4 linked regions of the Homo sapiens genome follow. The protein of the gene in region 1 purifies or fractionates together with the protein of each later gene. This does not show direct contact. Each region holds a gene or a part of one and is shown on either strand. Other genes may lie near its edges.

Region 1 (5,145 bases):
ATGCATCTTACCTAATTATAGAACAATATCAAAAGTAGGAAATTGACATTGGTATAAAGTGTGTATGGTTCTATGCCATTTTATTACGTGCGTAGATTTGTGTAACCGCCACCACAATCAAGATACAGAACTATTAGATCACCACCAAGATCTCCTTCATGCTACCTCTTTATAATAATAACCACCCCCCTTCCTGACTCCTGGTAACTACTGATCTGTCCACTGTTTCTAAAATTTTGTCACTTCAAAAATACTATACAGATTGAATCACATGGTATATAACCTTTTGGGATTAACTTTTTTCACTTAGCATAATGTCCTCAAAATTTATCCACATTGTCACATGTATCAAAAGTTCATACCTGTGTATTGCTGAGTAGTATTCCATGGTGTGGTTGTATTATAGTTTGTTTAACTATCATTGAAGGATATTAGGGTTGTTTCTGATTTGGGGCTATTACAAATACAGCTGCTGTGAACATTTGTATACAAGTCTTGGTATGGACATACGCTGTCATTTTTCATGGGTAAACACCTAGGAGTGGAATTGCTGGGCCACGTCCTTTTGAGGTATCCCCAGACTGTTTTCCAAGGTGGCTGCAGCATTTCACATTTCTACCAGCAGTATTTGAGTAATCAGTTTCTCTGCTTCATTACCAGCTATTTTAGTTATTTTTCGTTCTGATGGATATGTAGTAATAACTGACTTTGTGCCTGAAGCAAAGCTCAGGGGTGTTATAAGGAAACGAAAAAAAAAAAAAAGAAAATTGTGCATATTTTATGTAAAATGGAACAAGTAGAATCTGTAGGCAAGAGCAGTTCCTGTGTTGGAGTCCTCTGAGGAGAAGCTAAAAGCAGAGCTGTTGTGAGTGTAGGAGATAAGGGGAGGTAATCCAGAGGGCATTGAGGAGAGAGTATCAACCAAGTCTAATTCATTAGTAAGCTGACACCATGGCAGCTTGGATAGATGAGACAGTTTCTTAGGTGTCTCTGTCCAAAGATATTCCTCCCTGTAAGGGTTGGGGGTAGAGAGTAGCACTGCAAGAAGTGGCTTGTGCCCATCCTTTTGCCATTAGTCCTTTTGAGCATAGGCCTTCTGGGAGGTTGCATGGGGGAAAATGACCCATGGTAATGGGATATTCTCTCTTCTTTGGAATGTACTTTAAGGCTGGCAGGCTCCTTGTTCAGGATATTTAAAGAAGACAGAGAATCAAGTGGCCTGAAACAAAGTAGAGTGTATTTCTTTCATCAGAGGCTTACTGCCTTTAATTTTGAAGACTTTAAAACATGTTTTACTATAGAATTATTTTTCCTCAGCCTACCTTTGGAAAGGCTGTTCTTCAGTGAGGTAGATTGGAGTTCAGGCCTAGTGGATATAGGAAATTGGTGGTCTTCTCAGTATGTCTGTAGGAGTTTGTAATTGCCTTAGCCTTAGAGAGGAAGGGGTATTTAAAAAGGCAGAGGAAAAAGATGGAGGCTTATAATCAAGGATAGCAGCAGTCTTCTTGATTAGGTCATACTTCACTGTAGTCCCTTTGCAAGTGATGTTAGCTGTTTTTAGTAGTGGTTGATTTACTTGTCAAATCACAGAATTACATTTTGGAGAAACATATAACAACAACACTTTTATGGCATTTACTGTGTGTCAGGTACACTTCTAAGCACTTTACAAATTGCTGACTTACTAATTCTCTCAGTAACTACGAGGTAGATACTGTCATCCCGATGAGAAAAAAATCACTTAAAAATAATCATGGCAGGCACAACTCTTAAACCTTAAAAATAGCTGCCATACATTATTGTTTTCATTCACATTGAAGTAGGCTGAGGTTCCAAGGAGTTCAGAATAATTGGTTCTTAAGAATGATAACATAGTAATCTGTTGGGTAAGAGATACTGCAGTACATTATTTTCTTGTGTCGTCTTGATTACTTCCCTTCTAATTTGCCTGTTTGTCAGGTGGGCTGGGGCACATGTCCCACCCTCTCTTCTCAGGCTTTTTGAAAGAGGCTGTCTTATGTTGTGTGTATTGCTTGAAGGACCCCTAGTCTTAAGGCCCCAGGCTTTCTCCAAAAAGAATGATTTTCTCTTAGTGTGTTTTATTTTTATTTTAATTTTTTTCTCGAGTCATGTTAGTTTCACGAGGACCCAGAAATAGTATCAAGGGAATTAGGATCAAGATGCATTCCTTATTATTCCTCACCCCTCTAGCTGCTACCCGGATACTATTGTGCCAGGCCCAGACAGATATCTTTTTAGGTGGAACTAGCTTTAGCTTCCCAGATCTTCAGGGCTAGTTCCTGTGATTTAAGTTAGGTTTTTTTTTTAAAATTCTTTTTAAAGTATGAATACATACCTAAAAGGGCACAAATCACAAGTTCAAAGAATTACCACAAAATGAGCACATTTGTATGGTCACTGAGGTTAAGAGATAGAACATTACCAGAACCCCAAAGCCTCTGGTGTCGTTATCCCAGTCACCACTCCCGCCATCCTCCCCATGACTAACCACTATTTTGACTTTTAATGCCACTGATTATTTTTAAGATGAGATTTGAATTTCTGACTTATTTAACTGGTTCATTAAAAATGCATCTCCTAGTCTTTGATGGAACAGTAAGTTGATCATGGTCTTGCATCTTTCTTTTTTAGAGTCGACTTCAATGTTCCTATGAAGAACAACCAGATAACAAACAACCAGAGGTAAGGTCCCTGCTAATCCTTGGGCTGGGTTTAAGATGTGTGTAGGTACACAGGATGAAATGTTTTTCCTTTCATATTGTATTATGGAACTGTAGCAACTTAAAACAAATGATTTTGGCTTTCTATCAACCCACTCTCTGATCTGCTTTCTTATTTATGAGAATATACAAATATAAGCAAAATCTTAAGAAAGTGATTCCCCTTCCCTTGTTTTTTGAAAATTAGAAGAATTTGGAGTTCATTTTCTTTTTTTGAGATAGGGTCTCACTCTGTCACCCAGACTGGAGTGTAGTGGTGTGATCACGGTTCACTGCAGCCTTAACCTTCTGGGCTCAAGCAGTCCTCTGGCCTCAGCTTCCCGAGGAGCTGGAACAACAGGTGCACACCACTACACCTGGTTAAATTAAAAAAAAATTTTTTTTTGTAGAGATGGGGTCTCACTATGTTGCCTAGGCTGTTCTCAAACTCCTGGACTCAAGTGATCCTCCTGCCTTGGCTTCCTAAAGTGCTGGGACCACAGGTGTAAGCCCCCATACCTGGCAGAGTTATTCATTTTTAAAGAATATAAAAGTTGGCTGGGTGCGGTGGCTCACATCTGTAATCCCAGCACTTTGGAAGGCCGAGGCAGGAGGATTGCTTGAGGCCAGTAGTTCGAGAACAGCCTGGCCAATATAGTAAGACACCATCTCTATAAAACACACACAAAAAATATAAAAATTTAAGGTTACTTGGCTTCTCTTGCAAAATGAAGAACTATGTAAGAGAAGGATTTTAAAAGTACCAGTAGTTACTAAGGTTATATGTAGTTTTACAAGCCCCCATTCAAATGGCTCAGATAAGTCAATTTTTGAGAATTTTCATTTGTTTTTGCTTCCAAAAAAACAAACAGGAAAGACTTCAGAAGTACGTTTTCAGTCAGTTTAGCTGCTCCAGTGTCTTGGATCCTAGATTCAGAAACAAATTTTAAGTGAGAGTACTGCTCTTGCTTTTGACTAGATTATAAAAGGTCTTTATTTTTGTCTTTACTTTCTTTTTAATTTTTTTAATTTTTAATTTTTGTAGATTTTATATATATATATATATGGGTTACATGAGATATTTTGATAAAAGCATGCAATACATAATCACATCAGGTTAAATGGGGTATCCATCAAGAAGGTTTTTATTTAATTTTTTTTTTTTTTTGAGACAGGGCCTCGTTCTGTCGCCCAGGCTGGAGTGCAGTGGCACGATCTTGGCTCACTGCAATCTCTGCCTCCTGGGCTCAAGCGATCCTCCCATCTCAGCCTCCCAGGGAGCTGAGACCACAGGCGTGGGCCACCACACCTGGCTACTTTTTCATATTTTTTTTGTAGAGACAGCGTTTTGCCCTTTTGCCCAAGCTGGCCTTGAGCTCCTGGACCCCGCCCACCTTGGCCTCCCAAAGTGCTGGGAATACAGGCATGAGTCACTGTGCTCCGCCTATTTTAAATTTTAAATGAAGGGTTTGTGTTGGCAAGGTGCTTTCTAATGATCTAGACCAGTGGTATCTAATAGAAATACAATGTGAGCCAAATTGTGTTAATTAAATTAAAGGGACATTTAACTTTTTTGGTACTAAGTCTTCAAGATCTGGCATGTGTTTTTATACTACAGCACATCTCAATTTGATCTAGTTATATATCTGGTACTCAACAGACACACATGACTAAATGACTGTCGTAATGGACAGTGCAGGTCTAGCCCAGAACATTTTCAGGTATTGGTCCTAGAATAGAGCCTGTCATTTTGCCAAGCACATCCCTGCTGTACCATAGTGGCAGGGTCTTTGTATAAGGCAGATCTGATCCCGCTTGATCTTCATTATTGTGCAACACACAGAAACGATTGGAAATATGCCTATCAAGTTATTTTAAGAGTAAAGAAACATGTTTGGAAATCTTTTCATTTCCGGAAATCCATGGAGTTGATTAACAAAATGAAGCATTAGAAATAATAAAACTTGCTGATAAGGGATAGTCCTGAAAACTAATTGGTTCCATTGCACAAACTTTGTACCTGATACAGATTTTTAAATTTGATATAAAGGAGTTCTTATATCTGCTAAATATTAATAACATAAGATATTTTAAAAGTATAACTTTTTTAATCATTCCATTCTTTGCTCAGATGTCATCATATCAGACTTTCCCTGGCCATCCTGTCTAAAAATCTCCTCTACCATTGTTCCCCGGTCATTTTTGTCCTCAAAAGTAGGGGAACAAAAATGGGGAACAATGGTTTGTTTTTTTTCTGTATCTCACCATCTGATATATTACATGTACGCACACACACATACATGTTTATTGTCTCTCTCCATTAGAATTTCACTTCCATGAGAACAGAGAGTTTTTAAAAAAGTTTTCTGTTTCATTCTCAGAACCTGGAATGATGCCTGGCACAAAAGAAGCATTCAATAAATAT
Region 2 (4,322 bases), on another chromosome or scaffold:
ATAAAGTGTCTGTTGAAGGAAGGAATCCCTAGATGGAGTTTGGCTTTTCCAGCAAAGGATACAATCTTTCCCCTTGAACAGAGTTTTCCCTGTCAGCATCTCTGCCATGATACAGCCCACAGACCAGATGTCCACTGCAGAGGGAGGGAGAGTGTCACCTGGACTGTCTGGGGCCCAGCAGTCAGTCAGCACCGAGTGACCAGATGGCCCCAGGACCGCCCTCTCAGGCATTGACCACTGACCTGTCTGGTTGTAGTGCATCCAGCTGAGGATCACCTCGGGGGCTCGGTACCAGCGGGTCACCACGTAGCCAGTCATCTCGGCGTCTGCATGTCGCGCCAGCCCAAAATCCAGAATCTATGGCACAGGGGATAAATAGAAAAGGAACTTGCTGAGGGGAGGAGGCTCTGGGAGCGGCTTCCAGGGGCTTCCCTGGGGGAGGGCCTATCCCGCCTCTGGGCTGAGCCTGCAGCCCACTCACCTTCAGTTCACAGTCCTCATTCACAGCCAGGTTGCCTGGCTTCAGGTCCTGGGGGGAGGACAGAGAATGCATGCTAGGCTGAGGCAGAGATGGAGCTTGTCCTAGCTCCACCACCACCCAGGGGTGTGACCTCAGCCAGGCCCCTTCCCCTTCTGGGCCTCAGTTTCTTCATGTGTAAAATGAGGGTTGGACTAGGTGTTCTCTCAGGGCCCACCCAGCTCTAAAATGTTCCTGATTCTTGAAGCCTGAAACACTCAGCTCAGGGCTCACTTTGTCTGCAGCAATTCCCCATGAAGTCCCCTGGGACACAGTGACTCTTTTGAGCAGGCCTTCCTGGGCCGTGGCTGGGTGTGAAAACTCCACATTCTGTGCTCCTGGGCAGTGTCCCCTCCCTCCAACTTTCCCACTCCTTGATTGCCAGAGAACCCCATACCCAGGGATGGGACAGGGGCCTCTGAGGACCATGGCAGAGAAAGCACTCACCCTGTGCACGACCCCAGCAGAGTGGATGTACTATGTGGGAGAGAGAGAAGGGTGAGTCCATGGCCCAGCTTCCACACCAGGCACTTCAGGCTGGCCGACCTGTAACAGTGCGCTCCCTCCAGCCTCCCCAAACCTCAGGTCTAGACAGCAAGGCGTCCCCTCTGCCAGCCTCCAAGTCCCCACCCACCTTAAGGCCTTTGAGCATCTGATACACCAGGTACTGGATCTTCTCCTCACTGAACTCCATCCCCATGATCTTCTGCAGATCCGTCTGCATGAAGGGCATCACCAGGTAGCTGGAAGGCATGAGGGGTTCTTGGAACAGTGCCGGGTCCCACCCAGCCCCAGGTCAGAGCTCAGAGGAGGGACCTCAGGGCAGAACAGGGGTCATAGAGACACCCTCCAGTGTGCAAAAACTCAACTCCACCTCAGCCAGCCAGATCACCACACGGGCCTCTGGGCTCCTGGCTCCCAGTCTCCCTGTGGCGGGCCGCCCAGCTGGCAGAGCTCGGAGTAAGCGCTGCAGTTGGAGCGCGCTCAGGAAAGCCACATGGAACTGTGTTCCCGCTCTTCAAAGGTACTCTCTCCTTGCCCTCCTCCACACCCCAGGGAAAGCCACAGCTAGGAGTTAGAAACATCTGCCAGTATTTCCTTCGGCTTCTGTCCAAATATTTGATCCCTCAGAGGGTCATGCCCAGCTGAGATGGCTCCACAAACAAACAATATGTCTACCTTTCCAAGAAGGAAACAATACAACAGTTTCCAGGAGGGTGGAAGAGGGAGATGGGGAGGCTCCTGCAGCCTCTTAGGGGATTGCACAACAGGATAAGGCCAGCAAAATGTAACTGTTACAGTAAAAGCAAAGACCAGGACAAAGACAAAAAATAATAAAAATTATAAAATAGGCCAGGGGCATACCTCCAATCCCAGTGCTTTGGGAGATGGAGGCTGGACGATCGCTTGAGGCGAAGAGTTTAAGACCAGCCTGAGCAACATAGGGACCCATCTTTCTTTCTTCCTTTCTTTTTTTCTTTGAGATGGAGTCTTGCTCTGTCGCCCAGGCTAGAGTGCAGTGGCGTGATCTTGGCTCACTGCAACCTCCACCTCCCAGGTTCAAGCGATTTTCCTGCCTCAGCTTCCCTGAGTAGCTACAACTACAGGTGCACGCCAGAACGCCCAGCTAATTTTTGTATTCTTAGTAGAGACGGGGTTTTGCCATGTTGGCCAGGCTGGTCTCGAACTCCTGACCTCAGGTGATCTGCCTGCCTCGGCTTCCCAAAGTGCTGGGATTACAGGCGTGAGCCACCATGCCCGGCCTGGACCCCACCTTTCAGAAAAAAAAAAAAAAATTAGCCAGGTGTGGTGGCATGCACCTTTAGTCTTAGCTACTCAAGAGGCTGAGGTGGGAGGATCACTTGAGGCCGGGAATTCGAGATCAGGATGAGTAACATAGTGAGACCCCATATCTATAAAAATTAAAACAAAACAAAAAGCTGGACATGGTGGCATGCATCTGTAGTCCCACCTACTTGGGGGGCTGAGGCGGGAGGATGGCTTGAGCCTAGGAGTTGGAGGCTGCAGTGAACTGTGTTTGTGCCACTGCACTCCAGTCTGGGCAACCCAGCCCTATCTCTAGAATATAATAAATTTAAAACTTTTTTAAAATGAATGTTACCTTAAACAATTATGTAATAGGTTGTGTTTTTTGTTGTTGTTGTTGTTGTTGTTTTTGAAAGGACATGCTGGAGGCATCTCCAGGAGACTCTGGATTTTGGCAGCCCTCTCCTGCCGGACCACACACCTCCCTTGGGGGCCTCTCCATGCCCAGTCCCCTCCTGTGTCTTTCCCCTCCACTCGGGCACTGGTTCTTTCATCTTGGCAACATGCTTCCTGAAGCCTCTCTGTGCTAGAACCACATTCCCTTGACTTTGCTTCTTCAACTGACCACCCCTTCTCCCTCTCTCACCACCAAACTTCTAGAAAGGGCGGTCCACACTCCTGGATCCCACTGCCTTACCTCCCAGTCCTGAGTTAACCTGGTTTCTGCTTCCCTCCTACTGCCAGACTGCTCAGCTCAAGGTCACCAGTGAACACCCGACAAACACACCATGACTCCCTTTTCTTCTGATCTAACCTTTCACCAAGTCTGAAACTCCCTCTCAATTCTTTGCTGACTCTCCTCTGCCTCCTATCAGGCCCTCTCAGCTTCTTCCATCTGCTCATCCTCTTGGATCTTCTCTTTCATGTTGATATCTGAATCAATACTATCTTACCACATTCTACAATTATCTGTTCCCGGGTGTCAGCTATAACCCATCGGTGATTATTCCAGCACAAATCCACATCCCTAGCCCAGACCTTCGTCTCCTGAGGTTCATATTTATTTGCAACTGTGATTAAACATTGGAATGTTCACAGTTTCTTTAAAAGTAAAGTGTCCAAAATGGAGTTCGTTATCTTTCCCCCAAGATCTGTTCTTCCTCTACCGTGTATTTCAAGCAGGAACCTGCCCATTCCTCCACCTCTGCCACCTCACTCAGCTACTGCACCCCAACAGATGGAACATTGTGTCGGCCCTGCCTCCCAAATGGGGCCTCAAGTCTGCTCTTGGCATCCCATCACCTCTGCTTTAGATCCCTACTTTAGATCACTAACACTGACCTCCAGGCTCTCCCCCTCTGCCTCCGAGCTGCTTCCTACTCCTTTCTTGCTGCTGCCAGTGTGCATCCCCCAAATCCCATCTGAACATATCACCTCCCGGCTCAAAGTCCCCAGGTCTTGAGGCTGCCTGTAGGGTCAGTCCAGATTCAGCTTGACCAAGCCAGCTGCTGGCCTCCACGTGCCACACTGACTTCTCCATCTTGTCCAAATAGTCCAGTCTCATTCAGACACTGCACAGGCAAAGCTATACATTTTGCAGCTAAATATTCTGGTTTTCTGCCATTCTGTCAAACACCCCCATCAGCCAGAGGCAGCCAAGGCTTCTTAATCCTTGCTTCATGCTAGAAAGAGCTCCAAGGTCCAGACTCACATCTGTGTCCCCAGGAAAGGTGAGTTGGTGCTAACCCTGTGAGGACTGGCAGATGTGTCTTCATGGTGTTAAAGCTGGGTAAAAAGCAAAGCAGCTGTGCAGACTGCCCCCTGCCAGGCAAGCACCCCACAAAGTCCTTCCTGCCTCTTCCTGCCTGCCTTTGGCTAAAAGCATCTTTCCAGAGAGAATCACACTTGACAGGCAAAGGCACAGGACTGCCAGGGAAGGAGGCTCTCCCCGCCACACCCGGAATAGAAACCCTAGACCCTCCCCCACCTTGCTCCCCAGCGGCATGTAAGGCCTGCAAATGCCCCAGAACCCAGTGCA
Region 3 (4,322 bases), on another chromosome or scaffold:
GGCCAAGCTCCCGCTGGCTGAGGACAGGGTGCTGTCCGAGCCCAGCGAGGTGTTGGACTGGGTCAGGGACGACTTGCGCAGCTTGTTGCGGAGGAAGAAGCCTTTGGCTTTGCCCATCTTGCCCAGGCTGCCCAGGTCAGGATCCTCTATGGCGCTGCTTGGGAGGATGGCAGAGGCAGATTCCAGATCATACTTCTTCTTGCCCTTCATCTTGTCCCTGATCTTGCTGAAGGGAGACCTTGGCTTGTCCTTCATGGACAGGTCAAACATACTGGCGCTCAGGTTGTTGCGCGTGAACTGGATGGTGACTTCAATCTCGCCGCGTTCCTTCTCCTTCTTGCCTGGCTTGGAGTGCAGCTTGTACCACCTGTGAGAAGAGGGGAGCAGGCAGAACTCAGTCACGGGCCCAGGGAGCCTGGCTCCCGCCCGGTACCAGGCACTGCCCAGACCCCTCCTTGCTCTGAGAGCCACTGATAGCCTCTCCCCAAAGGCTCCTGCTCTGACCCATCGGCCTGGGCTTCCAGGCTTCAGATGCAGCTGAGAAACTATCCAAAACATTTCCATGATGGAGAAAACCACATCCTGAGTGGGGAAGCTCCTCGGGTGCCACCAGGTAGGGCGGCGGTTACCACACCATGCCTCCTCCCACCCCAGGACCTTCTCCTGGTGCTCAGAGACCTCTCCTCTGCCCCATCTCCCCTACATCTGAAACTCTGAGGCCCAGAGGGGTGAGGCTGGGCCTGGGAGAGCCCTCCCATCTCCAGGCCCCAGCACAGACAGACCTACCCACATTTCTCCCTGTTGACATCATCTCCTCTGGCCAGTCCCAGCCAAAGCTCTGCTCCCAGCCACCGTGAGCCCAGGAAAGAACAGCTCACCCAGAGGCCCAGGGCCAGGAACACAGGAATGCTAGTGCATACACTCATGTATGTATACACACACACACACACACACACACACACACACACCTCACTCACACACTGACTCACCCCAAGCCCTGTCAGGAATACCTCTACAAGATGCAGGAACAGACAAGAATGGCAGAAAGAGACCCAGGAAAGACGAAGAGCGCTCATATCTGTTGAGCATCTATGGTGCATTACGACCAGCATGAGGGTTCTTACCTCACTCCCGCACATACCTCCCAAAAAGCATATGAGGTAAGAGGTACTACCCCATTGTACAGATCAGGAGGGTGAGGCTCAGTGGTAAAGGAACCCATCCGTGGAGACTCAGAGCCAGGTGTCCAGCCCTCCAAAGCTTAAGTTCTTCCCGGTGCACACCCACTGTGCCCAGAGAGACACAGAGACAGCCCCCAACACACATGGCCACCACACAGGGTGGCTGGGGCCCGCCCTACTGGGGAGAGATGTTCTTATGCAGGGGTTGGCAGTTTCTTAGAGAACTAAGCAAACTCCGATCACACAAGGAGCAATCACACTTCTTGGTACTTTGCCTACTGAGGTAAAGACTTATGTCCAAAGAAACACCCTGCACACAAATGTTTATAGCAGCTCTGTTCATGATTGCCAAAACTTGGAAGCTGCCAAGGTGTCCTCCAGTAGGTGAAAAGATAAGCAAACTGTGGTACATCCAGACAATGGAATACTACTTAATGATAAAAATAAATAGGCTATCAAGCCATGAACAGACACGGATGGATCTTACATACATAAGTGAAAGAAGACAATCTGAAAAGGCTTCATGCTTGCACGACAAAACTATTTGACATTCTGCAAAAGGCAAAACTATGGAGACAGTGAAAAGATCAGTGGTTGCTGGGGGATTGAAGAGAGGACAGAGCGATGAATAGGCAGAGCACAGGGACTTCTCAGGAGAGAAAAACTATCCTGCATGCTACCGTAATGGTGGACATGCATTGTTATACACCCACAGAATGCACAAAACAGCAAGTGAACCCTAACATAATGTATAGACTCTAGTTAACAATGACGTGTTGATATTGGCTCTCAAATACAACAAACATGCCACACTAATGCAAGATGTTAACAGAAGAAATGGCGGTGGGGGCGTGGGTGGAGTAGATGGGAACTCTCTATACTTTTCACTCGTTTTTCTGTAAACTTAAAACTGCTCTGAAAAATAGACTTTATTAACTAAAAAAAAGAGAGCAGGGAACACAAAAAGGAAGAAACTATGAAGGAAATCATACAAGAATGTTTTTCTGAACTGAAGAACATGAATGCTAGAACAGTCCTACAAGTATGCAGCGCAATGAACTAAGACAGACACATGCCAACAGATATGACTATGAGGCTTAGAACACCAGGCATGAAAGGATTCGAACAGCACTGGAGTCTTCCTTAGCAACACTGGGCACCACATGAAGGAATGTCTTCACATTTCTGAGGGAAAAGCCTTCCACTAGCCTGGAATTCCAGACCCAGCCAATCGAGCATGAAGGTGGAATAAAGCCCGGTGGTAGTGGTCAGGCTGGTCACTAAAGGGCTCAAAGTCCCTTGGTGACTGCACAGCACACACACACATACACACACACACACACGCACACAGAGCTACCCAAGCCGCAGTCAGTGATGCAGGATCCACCTCCCGCCTGAGCTCTGCCCCCAACAATGCCAGCTCCCTGAGCTTCTGGTGGACACAGAGTGGGGTGTGGGGAGCCTTTGTATGAAAAGTCCCTATACATCCAAAGATCCAGAATTAAGTCACAGCAAAAGCTTGGTGGTAGTGGTGGTAGTATTTTGATTATTTTTTAATGTTGAAGTTTTTTTAAAAAGGCTTCCTGGGGCACCTCTGACTCTTCTACATCCCTATAGAAGAGCCCATCATGACGAAATCCTGGTGGGCTATGGCCCGTCCCCTCCGTGGAGACCTACTCCGCAGCCTGAGCGGCCTGAGCCTAGACTTTGGTTTTCCCTCCCAAACCTGAGAGACAATCCCCTGAGAAGGCCGGGTAGGAACAGATGGTGCCACAGGCAGGGCGGACAGAGAAAATGCCCGAGCGGGTGCCTCTCTCATAAGGCACGGGCAGAAGTGAGGGGAGGAGAGGCTAATTGAGACAGACAGACTGGAGGATGTATGTGAGGGTGTCTGTGGGGCAGGAGAGGAAGTTTGACAGAAAGACCAGCCAGCAGCATCAACAGCCTCACACCTCTACGTTCTCAGCCCAGTGACCACCGTGGGCCTGACCCTTTACCTATTTAGAGGCCAAGCCCTAGTCACTTTCCCTAAATCTGGGCTAGGCCCTATCTAGCACAGGAAAGTCCTGGGAGGTAGGGCAAAAGAGAAGGGTATGGACTCCAGCCCCAAACCGCCCAAGCCCTGAGTAACTAGGATCAGCAAGCACAGCCAGCCTTTGCTGGGGCAGACAGGTCAGGGGCCCTCAGCCCCAGCTACTCACACTGCACACACCACAGCGGTAATGCAATTACCTGAGGGGACCGGGGCCCTGTGGTGAGATTGCAGGGAACTAGCACTTCCTACATTGTCTATTTTTGTCCTATTTGAATGTTTTATAAGGAGCATATATTACTGTGGTAATAGGAAAAAGAGACAAGGGAAAGCTCTTGCTCCTATCTCATCTCAGCTTCCTGAGCCACAAAATGGGCCGTGCTCCTCTGCCTCCCAGCCCTCAGAGGAAGGCGGGAGGCCGAGTTTCAGGTCCTTTGCCACAAGGACCTTTTGGGCCTCTCTCCCCTATAAGGTCACTTCCCCTTCTCCTGTTCTGCCCAGCCCTCCCCCACAGGGAATTTGGGTTTCTCCCTGGACTTGTTTTTCAAGGAAGCACGGAAGGAAAAAGAAAAAGCTTCCCTGAATATTTTTTAGGCTCTCCCATCCAGAGCACAGTGAAATGGAGAATGGCCAGGACCTACCTCTGGACCCCAGCTGCCATCACTCGTCCACCTCCCTTCCAGCCCCACCTCCCTCTGCAACCCAGTCAAGGGCAGGACTGAATGGGATACTGCCTGGCACCTTGGCCACCCTGGGCACCCCAGGGACTCAACCAGAGCAGACCTTCTCCCAGAAGTATGGCCTACATGAGCTGAGATGGCCACATCCTCCCCCTCCCTAGAGGTGCTACTTCCCTGTGCCTGGACCAGACAGCCCCACAGACCTGTCGGGCACCATGGAGGTCCACTGGAGAATGGAAAACTATGAACACTGTCGAGGGGGGCTGAGGAATCCGCAATGAAAACAAATGGAGGCTTTCTTTTCACAGAGCCCCACACGCAGCAGAGCAAATGGGCTCTGAGCACCTCATCCCTAGAGACTGAAGCCCCCACGGGGAATATGACAGCAGGGTCCTATGACCTAGTTCAAGTCCCACTCCTCTGGGAAGC
Region 4 (4,322 bases), on another chromosome or scaffold:
CTTAAGCTGGGTGTGGTGGCTCATGCCTGTAATCCCAGCACTTTGGGAGGCTGAGGCAGGCGGATCACCTGAGGTTGGGAGTTCGAGACCAGCCTGACCAACACGGAGAAACCTCATCTCTACTAAAAATGCAAAATTAGCCAGGCGTGGTGGTGCATGCCTGTAATCCCAGCTACTCAGGAGTCTGAGGCAGGAGAATCACTTGAATCCGGGAGGCGGAGGTTGCAGTGAGCCGAGATCGTGCCATTGCACTCCAGCCTGGGCAACAAGAGCAAAACTGCGTCCCAAGAAAAATAATAATAAAATAAATAAGTAACCACTTAAAAATATAAATGTAGTTCTTAACTCAAGAACTGTTAAAGTTGATAATTGACTGACCCCTGGTGTAGACCATCCCAGCTGAGGGGAGTCTGGGAATATGGACCTGCTCTCTCAGGGTGGACGTAGCTATGAGATTTGGCTCCTGCCTGGAATGGGGCATTTCCCCAGGGCTTCTTCCTTCTTCCTTGGAAATCTTGAGTCAGAGTGAAGAGAAGTTTGGGGATTAAGTTTCAGAGAAGCCCCAGCAGAGAGAACAGATTCTTCTATCTGGGATTTAGACTGATGTTTGTGGTGTGCTTGGATGACCTGTGTCTCTTTTCCCTTTTGCTTTCTTTCCTATAGCTGCCAAGGAGCCTGGAGCCAGGGTCCCTGTGCTTTAGGCAGGCACTTCTCACAGCCTCGGAGAAGTCCAGGAGCTAGGTCAAGGCAGAGGGTTGGGGGCCACAGACAAGGCCAAGGCGGGGCATGGAACAGCAGGGGTCAGATGTTAGGGGAAGTACGTCGGCACCCGGGTGGGGATCTTGAATACTATGTCAGGCACCCACAACAAGAGCTTTGGGTGCTTTGTGTCTAGGGCCGGGTACCCTTGTTTCTGCTGCTGATGCCGTGTTTCCAGTCTGGATTTTAGCAAAATTAACTGACCCATCCTTCTATCTGATGCCTGTTTTCTTCTCTCTCATTAGGGAGTTCTGGGTCCAGCTTTTAGCCCACTTATCTGCCTCCAGCTTTCAGCCTACTTATCTGCCTTCCTTAATCTTTTCCCCCTTCTAACCTCTTTTGCTGGCCTGTGCTCCCAGAGTTCCCAGAGTCTGTCTACACAACTCCCTGTATGTCCTTGGCCTAGGAATTTTTTCCTGTGTTTCTCTAACCAGCTCCTTAGAACCTGGAACTTGTTTCCATGGTCTATACTTCTTTTCTCTATTTATCCATCTGTCTTCTGATTGAAAAAAAAAATTATTTATTTTTGAAAATTTTTAAATTTTTATTTATTTATTTATTTATTTAATTTTATTTTTGAGATGGAGTCTTGCTCTGTCGCCCAGGCTGGAGTGCAGTGGCGCAATCTCGCCTCACTGCAAGCTCCGCCTCCTAGGTTCACACCATTCTCCTGCCTCAGCCTCCTGAGTAGCTGGGACTACAGGCACCCCCTACCACGCCCAGCTAATTTTTTGTATTTTTAGTAGAGACGGTGTTTCACCGTGTTAGCCAGGATGGTCTCGATCTCCTGACCTCATGATCCACCCACCTCAGCCTCCCAAAGTGCTGGGACTACAGGCGTGAGCCACCACACCCAGCCATTTTTTTTTTTTTTTTTTTTTTTTTGAGAAGGAGTTTCACTCTTGTTGCCCAGGCTGGAGTGCAATGGCATGATCTTGGCTCACTGTAACCTCCACCTCCCAGGTTCAAGCGATTCTCCTGCCTCAGCCTCCCAAGTACCCGGGATTATAGGCATGCACCACCACGCCCAGCTAATTTTGTATTTTTAGTAGAGACGGGGTTTCTCCGTGTTGGTTAGGCTGGTCTCAAACTCCCGACCTCAGGTGATCCACCCACCTCGGCCTCCCAAAGTGCTGGGATTACAGGTGTGAGCCACCGCGCCTGGCTTTTATTTAAAAAAAAAAATTTGTTTTCAATTTTTTGTTGTTATTTTTTTTGTGTTTTTTTGAGACGGAGTCTCACTCTGTCTCGCCCAGGATGAAGTGCAGTGGCATGATCTCAGCTCACTGCAGCCTCCCCCGCCTGGGTTCAAGCGATTCTCCTATCTCAGCCTCCTGAGTAGCTGGGACTACAGGCATATGCCACCATGCACAGCTAATTTTTGTATTTTTAGTAGAGAAAAGAATTTCACCATGTTGGCCAGGCTGGTCTCAAACCCCTGACCTCAGGTGATTCACCTGCCTCTTCTTCCCAAAGTGCTGGGATTATAGGCGTGAGCCACCACGCCTGGCCTTAATTTTTTTTTTTTTTTTAAAGAGGTGGGGGTCTCACTATGTTGACTAGGCTGGTCTTGAACTTCTGCCTTCAAGCAATGCTCCCATGTCAGCCTCCCAGAGTCCTAGGATTACAGGCGTGAGCCACTGTGCTCAGCCTGAAAAAATATTTACTGAAGCCCTCTTTATGGTAGATGCCGGGAAAATATTGTTAGTTTTTGCTAGACCTTGCTGAGATGGCTTGGGTAGGAAGGCATCTTAGAGACTGGTTGGGGTGGGAGCAGAGCAAAGGGTTTGGAGCCTCTGAAGAGGCTTCTGGTCCCTTAGACTGAAACCATCTTCCATCTTTTTTTTTTTCTTTCTTTGTTTTGAGATGGAGTTTCGCTCTTGTTGCCGAGGCTGAAGTGCAGTGGCACAATCTCAGCTCACTGCAACCTCTGCCTCCTGGGTTCAAGTGATTCTCCTGCCTCAGCCTCCTGAGTAGCTGGGATTACAGGCACCTGCCACCACACCTGGCTAATTTTGTATTTTTAGCAGAGATGGGGTTTCACCATGTTGGCCAGGCTGACCTCCAGCTGGCCAGGCTGGTCTCGAACTCCTGACCTCAGGGGATCTGCCCACCTCAGCCTCCCAAAGTGCTGGGATTACAGGCGTGAGCCACCGCGCCCAGTTCATCTTCCATCTTTTCACCTCCACTGCATAGATGTGCCTGTTATATTTCTGAGCCCCCTTCCCCCAGCATTGACCTTGGGGTGGTGACAGTAGAAGGCTGAAACCAACATAGCTGAAACCTCTGCTTCTCTCACCTGGCAGGTAAAAGCAGCTGTTAAGTATGCCCTTAGCGTAGGCTACCGCCACATTGATTGTGCTGCTATCTACGGCAATGAGCCTGAGATTGGGGAGGCCCTGAAGGAGGACGTGGGACCAGGCAAGGTAAGGACTGGGGTTGTAAATAGAGGTGGGATAAGAGAACTTAGAAGCTGAAGCTAGGGCTGGGGCCCAGCTGGAGGGAATCTGGCATCAGCTTCCTTCCAGTTCCTCTCCCAGAGTTGAGGGTGGGTGAGACCACGTGCTCATGGCTCTTCTCACTGTGGGCCCTGCCCCCTGCACTAGGCGGTGCCTCGGGAGGAGCTGTTTGTGACATCCAAGCTGTGGAACACCAAGCACCACCCCGAGGATGTGGAGCCTGCCCTCCGGAAGACTCTGGCTGACCTCCAGCTGGAGTATCTGGACCTGTACCTGATGCACTGGCCTTATGCCTTTGAGTGAGCCTTGCCAGAGCCTCATCTGGGGAATCAGGGGGTTGAGCAGGATGGTGTTAGTAACTTATTGTAAGTCACAGCAGCAGAGCAGGATAGGAACACTCATTTGCATGCCAAGCTGAGGAGCTTGACATGGGATCTTAGCCTCTTCTGCTACAGCAGCTTAGCTGTAGCTACAGGAGTTTAACTCTGGAAAAAGGAAGGCAGTCTCACATGGTGTGTACCCCAGGGTATGCACCTGTAACCCTCCTGCTCCCTTTATTCATTTAGAAAAGGTGCTGACTTTTCTGTTGAGCACCTGGGGTTACAGTAATAAGTAAGTCTCAGCAGAAGATGTGAGAAGAGCTCACCATTAGTGCCGTGCCCTGTGCTGGAAGAAGGGTGGATAACTCCCTGAGGATGAGTTAAGGAAGACTTCCTAGGGGAGAGGAGATATCTACGTCTAGGAAGAGGAGGGGGCATAGGCATTCCATGTAAACTTAACACCTGGGTTACGATCTGGAAGGATGAAAAAGCATGGCTTTTTTTGGCCAGGCGCGGTGGCTCACGCCTGTAATCCCAGCACTTTGGGAGGCTAAGGCGGGCGGATCACGAGGTCAGGAGATCGAGATCATCCTGGCTAACACGGTGAAACCCCGTCTCTACTAAAAATACAAAAAATTAGCTGCGCGTGGTGGTGAGCGCCTGTAGTCCCAGCTACTGGGGAGGCTGAGGCAGGAGAATGGCGTGAACCCAGGAGGTGGAGCTTGCAGTGAGCTGAGATAGTGCCACTGCACTCCAGCCTGGGCGGTAAAGCGAGACTCCATCT

What was found. The genes of interacting proteins can lie anywhere in the genome.
Region 2: the proteins of PGK1 (region 1) and MAPK13 purify together in Homo sapiens (co-immunoprecipitation; one large-scale study listed by IntAct). This does not show direct contact.
Region 3: the proteins of PGK1 (region 1) and RAB11FIP5 fractionate together in Homo sapiens (co-fractionation; one large-scale study listed by BioGRID). This does not show direct contact.
Region 4: the proteins of PGK1 (region 1) and AKR1A1 fractionate together in Homo sapiens (co-fractionation; one large-scale study listed by BioGRID). This does not show direct contact.

What each region holds. Positions count from the first base shown.
Region 1 is NC_000023.11:78,107,215-78,112,359, forward strand, and holds part of PGK1 (phosphoglycerate kinase 1), read left to right. Parts: intron 1-2,652; coding exon 2,653-2,703; intron 2,704-5,145. UniProt on the Homo sapiens protein: Catalyzes one of the two ATP producing reactions in the glycolytic pathway via the reversible conversion of 1,3-diphosphoglycerate to 3-phosphoglycerate.
Region 2 is NC_000006.12:36,132,691-36,137,012, reverse strand, and holds part of MAPK13 (mitogen-activated protein kinase 13), read right to left. Parts: intron 1,261-4,322; coding exon 1,152-1,260; intron 995-1,151; coding exon 965-994; intron 530-964; coding exon 482-529; intron 358-481; coding exon 243-357; intron 135-242; coding exon 63-134; intron 1-62. UniProt on the Homo sapiens protein: Serine/threonine kinase which acts as an essential component of the MAP kinase signal transduction pathway.
Region 3 is NC_000002.12:73,088,949-73,093,270, forward strand, and holds part of RAB11FIP5 (rab11 family-interacting protein 5), read right to left. Parts: intron 368-4,322; coding exon 1-367. UniProt on the Homo sapiens protein: Rab effector involved in protein trafficking from apical recycling endosomes to the apical plasma membrane. Involved in insulin granule exocytosis. May regulate V-ATPase intracellular transport in response to extracellular acidosis.
Region 4 is NC_000001.11:45,563,504-45,567,825, forward strand, and holds part of AKR1A1 (aldo-keto reductase family 1 member A1), read left to right. Parts: intron 1-3,065; coding exon 3,066-3,185; intron 3,186-3,365; coding exon 3,366-3,517; intron 3,518-4,322. UniProt on the Homo sapiens protein: Catalyzes the NADPH-dependent reduction of a wide variety of carbonyl-containing compounds to their corresponding alcohols.